Linked DNA regions of Homo sapiens. The protein of the gene in region 1 purifies or fractionates together with the protein of each later gene. This does not show direct contact. Each region holds a gene or a part of one and is shown on either strand. Other genes may lie near its edges.

Region 1 (3,500 bases):
AAGCTTTTACCATGAACAAAATTTGGGCTATGTACTAGATTCCAAGGATGAAAAAGACCATTTCTGTTATCTCTGTATCATTGTCTGCAGCAAGGCAGGCATCTGTTTGTTCCCTTCACATCCTCTGTTCTCAAGCTTGTTGGAAGCTGCTAGTTATAATAATATGGAAAATATAGGTTCTTTGACATATATGACATTCATTTGGGGAAGCTAGGTATCTTTTGGAGCAGCAGAAAATGAGGTCCTGAGATGGGCCTCTGTTAATGCTAATTGGGAGAGCTGTGCGATGTGTGTTAATACTCCTAATACAGAGTTTCAATGAGAGCCTCAGGCTTTAACTCACAAGGTTAGCAGTCAAGGTCTTTTTAACAGCTTAATTCCTACACTTCCCCCACAAGTAGCTTGTACCAGGGTGAGTAGCAGCAGGGATTTCTTCATTAATCAATGGATAAAATTCCCCTCAATAAGATCCACCTTAACAGATTTATAAACAAGAGAACTAGTTGACTCAGTGCAAGATTCTTAGTGCTTCTTCGTTGATGTTCTTTAGCTTCCTATTTTCAGTTTTTTTTGGTTTGTTTCTCTTAACTAGATCCTCAGTTTTTTTAGAGCAAGTACTCTGTTTTACTCATTTTGTACCCCACCATCTGATAAAATACCTGACTCTGAATATGTCTTCAGTAAACATTGATGAAATGGGGTTTGGCAGTACAAATGAAAAGTGATGTGTAGATAGAATATTTGAATATTTCCTGATAGTGTACAGTGTTGTCCTTGAGAATAGAATGAAGGAATCCATGTGGCTATTTTTCTTTAGCTAATTTGGAAAGTATTCTGTTTTTTTTTTTTTGTTTTTGTTTTTGTTTTTTTTTGAGATGGAGTCTTGCTCTGTTGCCCAGGCTGGAGTGCAGTGCTCACTGCCACCTCTGCCTCCCGGGTTCAAGCTGTTCTGCCTCAGCCTCCCGAGTAGCTGGGACTACAGGCGCATGCCACCACACCCGGCTAATTTTTTGCATTTTTAGTAGAGACGGGGTTTCACCAGGAAAGTATTCTTAACTGAGTTAACAGAAAAATTAAGCTGCAGGCAAATTTGTTTTTACTAATTTATTTCCCAGCTCTTCAGATGACTGTTCTCTATTAAGTAGTGCAATAGTAGTACCTAAAATTCGTGTAATCACATTAAGTGTTTAATTCCAGATGTTGTTGAGATCATTCCTACTCAAAGTGTGGACCAAGGACAGCAGCATTCACATCACCTTGGATCTTGTTAGAAATGCGGAATCTTAGGCCCACCCTAAATCTACTGAGTCAAAATCTACATTTTAACAGGGTCCCTAGGTGATTCATGTGCACACTAATGTTTGAGAAGCACACATTTATAAATTATAGCTTTCCATTTGATTCATGTTTCTTATGAATTATGGAAGTGAGTGTATATGTGAGCCTGCATTAGTGAGGTAGCTTATGGAATGCATGTCAACCACACTTAACAGATCATTAGTTTTAAAAAAACACATGCTAGGCTGGGCATGGTGGCTCATGCCTGTAATCCCAGCACTTTGGGAGGCCGAGGCAGGTAGATCACCTGAAGTCAGGAGTTCCAACATGGCAAAACCCTGTCTCTACTAAAAATACAAAAATTAGCTGGGTTTGGTGGTGTGCACCTGTAATCCCAGCTACTTGGGAGGCTCAGGTAGGAGAATCGCGTGAACCTGGGAGGCGGAGGTTGCAGTGAGCTGAGATTGCGCTACTGAACTCCAGCCTAAGCAACAGAGTAAGACTCCATCTCAAAAAAAAAAAAAAACCAGCCAAACAAAAAAACACATGGTAAATGATCCTGTTTGATTTTTGTACACTTTTGATTAATCTATATATTCTGTTTCTCCAGGTCGGCATTTCCCCAAACGTCCAAAGCATATGCTTGTAGTGGAAGCAAAGTTTGATGGAGAACAGTTGGCTACTGATCCTGTGGACCACACTGACCAGCCAGAATTTGCTACTGAGTTAGCTTGGGAAATTGACAGGAAAGCGCTTCATCAGCACAGGTGATTATCATTTTCATTTTAGCTTCTTTATTGGTTTCTTATTTTTCAGGCTGTTATAAATAAATACAGTTTGAGTATTTAATACTTGGGACCAGAAGTATTTTCGGATTTTTGGAATATCTGCATAATCAAAGATACCTTGGGGATGGGACCCAAGTCTAAACATGAAATTTATTTGTTTTACATTATACGCATAGTCAAAGGTAGTTTTATATAATATTTTAAATAAATTTTCATAAAATGAAGTATGTTAAATGCTTGTGTGTGGAATTTTCCGTTTGTGGCATTATGTCAGCACTCAAAGTTTTAGAATTTGGAGCATTTCAAATTAGGAATGTTCAACCTATAAATTTTGTATCTGTCATTACGTTTAATAATTATAGTTATTGAGTGTTTTTTTAAATGTGACAGGAAATTTTTAAAGTACTTTGCAACAATAACAGTTAAACATCAGAACAACACTATGAAGTTGTTATTTTTATTTCGCCCATATTATAGATGAGGAAACCGAGGCCTGAGATGTTAAGTATTAGTAACTTGTTTTAAGTCTGTTAGCTTAGTAGTGGTAGAGCCCAGGCAATCCAGCTTCAGAGCCTAAGCTTTTACACTACACTTACACTGAGCTGTTTGGGTTTTTTTTTTTTCCTAATGTGTGAGACAGTAGATATTCTAGAAATACCTTGATGATACCTACTCATTATTAAATATGGTTGGAATTCCTTGTAATTTCTGTTAATTTATTTATTGTATATTTACCTGGCTTGCCAAGGATATATAGAGGGGTATCCAGTGAAAAGTTATGAAAGTAATTCTATCAAGGTTTCTTTCTAATTAATTTATATTTAATTTTAAACAAAACCACTTTATTAGTATATAAAATAGACTTAAAGTTATAGTATATATTTTTTGTGAACTCTGACTAGAAGCAGGCAACAACAATAAAAGCAATACTCTTATTTATTTAAGGATTAAAAATATATTTTCTTCTGGAAAACATGTTATCACTTTAATACTTGCTTGTTCTCAGTACTAAATTAAATCAAAATGGAAAGTTAAAAAAAAGGAAAGCAAGGAAAACTCTATTTACCTCTGTTGCTAGAGTAGTCCATGGATTTATTTGAAGAAGTATTGCATTCTTAGAGAATATCAATGTTGGATTTCCTTTCAGTGGTGTCTATAATGGAGTCCTGCTATGAGCTGTTAGGGCTTCCATTTTGTTAGTGCCAGGTTAGTACCACTCTGATTGTTGTAGGCTGAGAAAATACAGATAAATTGAATTTATAAGTGATGATTTTGTGCTAAGTGCAGTTCTATAATAACTCCACTAGATAAAAGCAGTGGCAAAATCCATTCAGCTTAATGCATGAGCCAGTTGAGGGGTTCCGAACTAAAACAGCCCATGCTAAACAAGCCAATATCATTCTTTCAGAACACTGTTATGTGTTATATTATTAA
Region 2 (3,500 bases), on another chromosome or scaffold:
TTCAAATTCCTTTATAGTAACTTGTCTCTCATTGAGTGTGCTTTTGCTTCTTGAAAAGTTGTCTACATTTGCTTTCTATACTCCTTTCCCTGCTATTTATTTAACCCACTGTTTCTGTCTCCCATGACACCAATGAAACTGCTCCTGAACAATGTGGACATTTTTACCTTCACTTTACTTCATCTCCCTGTAGTATTTGACACTAATAATGGCTTCTTCCTTTTTCCCTTGGCTTTTATGTTTTTACTTTGTATTTATTTTTTTGATACAGGATCTCATTCTGTCATCCAGGCTGGAGTGCAGTGGTATGATCATAGCTCACTGCATCCTCAAACTCCTGGGCTCAAGCAATCCTCTTGCCTCACTCTCCTGAGTAGCAGGGACTACAGTCACTTGCTACCTCGCCTGGCTAGTTTTAAAAATTATGATTTGTAGAAACGGGCTCTTGCTATGTTGCCTAGGCTGGTCCTAAACTCCTGGCCTCAAGCTATCATCCCACCTCCTTGGCTTTTAGAACACCACACTTTCCTGATGTCCTCCTTTCTGAATCCTTGTTCTCAGGTGTCTCTGTGTAGGTTCCATTTGTTTTGCCTGTTTCCTAAAATGCCAGTTTTGTTAGTGCCCCATCTCTAGTCCTTTCCTGACCCTATTTCCTACTTGTTGCTTTAGTTATCAATTATATGTTGATGATTCCAACTGGGCGTGGTGCCTCACACCTGTAATCCCAGCACTTTGGGAGGCCAAGGTGGGTGGATCACTCAAGCTCAGGTGTTCAAGACCAGCCTGGGCAACATGGCAAAACCCCATCTCTACAAAAAAAAATACAACAAATGTGCCAGCCGTGGTGGTGCACACCTATAGTCCCAGCTACTCAGGAGGCTGAGGTGGGAGGATCATTTGAGCCTGGGAGTCGGAGGTTGCAGTGAGCCGAGATCGTGCCACTACACTCCAGCCTAGGTGACAGAATGAGACTCCGTCTCAAAAAATAAAATATGTTGATGACCCCCAAGTTACAATTCTCATGAGCTATAAACCTATAGGCTTTTCCAATTGGAAAGCCCAATTGGAAGTCCCACAGGCACCTCCAGTTTTACATGGACAAGTACAGAATAACTCATAATCCCATAATCCCCCACATACTCCTTATCCCATATGAATAGGTTTCTGCCTAAGGCAGAAATTGGATAATTAGCCTTGGTTATGTCACCTAGCACCCATCCTAACCTCTTCCCCTGCTCCCCCAAATCATTCAGTTTATTACTTGCTCTCCCCACCATTGCTACTATGCTGGTCCTTGCCCCTGTCAGACTTCATCTGGATTACTGCAACACTCATCCCTGCTGCCCCTCCAATCCTTGTTAAGACTCTAATCAGAATAATCTTTGTAAAACACAGATTTGATTATGTCATTCCCCTCACTTTACCCTCTAAATAAAAATAAAACCCAACACTTAGTGTGGCTCTGTCCATGAATTGGCTCCTTGCTTCCCACCACACTTCTTATCCTCTTAAACTACTTGCAGTTTCCTAATTCATTAAGTTCTTTCACTGTTAGGCGTTTGCACACATTTCTCCTACTGGTGCAGATTCCTTTCTCTGACCTAGCTAAATTGTCTTTTTCAATAAATTTCTATTGGCCGAGCTGGGTGGCTCATGCCTGTAATCCCAGCACTTTGGGAGGCCGAGGCAGATGGATCACCTGAGGTCAGGAGTTCGAGACTAGCCTGGCCAACATGGTGAAACCCCGTCTCTACTAAAAATACAAAAATTAGCCAGGCCTGGTGGCATGTGCCTGTAATCCCAGCTACTCGGGAGGCTGAGGCAGGAGAATTGCCTGAACCCAGGAGACAGAGGTTGCAGTGAGCCAAAATCACACCATTGCACTCCAGCCTGGGCGACAAGAGCAAAACTCCATCTCCAAAAAAAATAATAATAAGATAAATTCTACTAATACTATCAATTGTATTTGGCTAAGTCATTCTGGAAGCTACTCGTTTTCCAAAGATAAAGCTCTTAAAAAACATGGTTTTGAGTAACCTAGGGTTGAATCTTGGCTTAGCCATCTACTAGTCTTAAGAACTTGAGTAAGCTGGAGAGCTTTCTGAACCTTAGATTTTTTAATTTAATGTGAAATAAGGAGAACAGTAAGAGTAGCATAGGATTATTCTGAAGATTAAATGAAATCACATGTTTGGCACAAAATTGTTAGCTTCCCTTTTTATTTTCCTCTTACTCAGATTTCAACTACAGATTGCTCAAATTCTGGATTTAAGTTTTTAATACTATTTGATCCAAATATCTTTGCCCAGAATTCTCTGTCTTTTTTTTTTTTTTCTTATCTCTATACTTTTGCAGTTTTGGGTTGTCAAGATGTATAACAGCTGCCTGCTCCTCCCTGCTTTTGATGCATTCTTAGGACTGTACTCTGATCTAACTACCAGACCCCTTGCTGTCTGGTTTAATTTACAGGTTCCTATTTTTGTTTCTTCCTCTTCCTCCCACTTCCTTTTTTTTTTTAGGTTTGACAATCTAGAGAAATTTTTCCACACTATAAAGATTTTAAATATCTCTATGGAACATTAGTAATTGAAAATAATATATTTAGTCTGGATACATTTTGTTGGGGGTGGGGGGAATGTGAGAAACTGCCCTCTTAGATTCTAACGGTGTGATTATCTTTAAAATACTACTATCATTTAGTCAAAGACCACCTATTTTGGTAGTCTGTGGGAATATCAAAAATTATCTGCATTAGCTGGGCTTGGTGACATGGACCTGTAATCCCAGTTTTAGTGGGAGGATCACTAGAGCCCAGGAGTTTGAGACCAGCCTAAGCAACCTATTGAGTTGGACTTTCTTCAGGAATTTGATCATCCTACATGTATCAGGAATGAGGCGTGATGTTAAGCTCTGGGATTTTGCATTTCATTACATGGTATATGCCGTAGTTTTCCTGAGCAGAAGCAAAGCCTCAAAATACATGCACACCAGGTAGGATTATTGTTAATGAAAAGTATAATTTCAGTGTCTTTACAACTTAGTTTGTGTCTAAAATATGAACTAGTGTTTTTTTCCACTTGTTAAATTGATCTTGTATTTGGTTTTGCGAATTTTCAAACAAAGAATAAAGAACATGAAATTAGACTATATATTCTGTCATTTTCCCCTGAGTTTTTTCTAATCTTGTCCCTTCATACTTTTCCCCAAAGGTTCAGCGTCTTCCATTTCTTTCAAGCTCAAATCTTTCACTGGATGTTTTGAGGGGTAATGATGAGACTATTGGATTTGAGGATATTCTTAATGGTAAGTGTCATTCAGCACCTTTTTATGGAGCCCTTGTAATTTAAAAGGCAAACAGCTGCAAAAAGAATAGGCAAAATTCTTGTCCTCATGGAACTTACAGCTGATTGGGTTCACTTTATTCATTGCATTAAGATAAAGTTTAATGGTAGTAACTGTTCTTTAACTGTTTTTAAAAGTGAAGATTGGCTGGGTGCGGT

The links. Proteins that work in one complex are often made in the same cells at the same time.
Region 2: the proteins of CEP120 (region 1) and POMP purify together in Homo sapiens (affinity purification with mass spectrometry, with the first as the bait; one large-scale study listed by BioGRID). This does not show direct contact.

The regions. Positions count from the first base shown.
Region 1 is NC_000005.10:123,416,904-123,420,403, reverse strand, and holds part of CEP120 (centrosomal protein of 120 kDa), read left to right. Parts: intron 1-1,888; coding exon 1,889-2,045; intron 2,046-3,500. UniProt on the Homo sapiens protein: Plays a role in the microtubule-dependent coupling of the nucleus and the centrosome.
Region 2 is NC_000013.11:28,669,130-28,672,629, forward strand, and holds part of POMP (proteasome maturation protein), read left to right. Parts: intron 1-3,209; coding exon 3,210-3,303; intron 3,304-3,500. UniProt on the Homo sapiens protein: Molecular chaperone essential for the assembly of standard proteasomes and immunoproteasomes. Degraded after completion of proteasome maturation. Mediates the association of 20S preproteasome with the endoplasmic reticulum.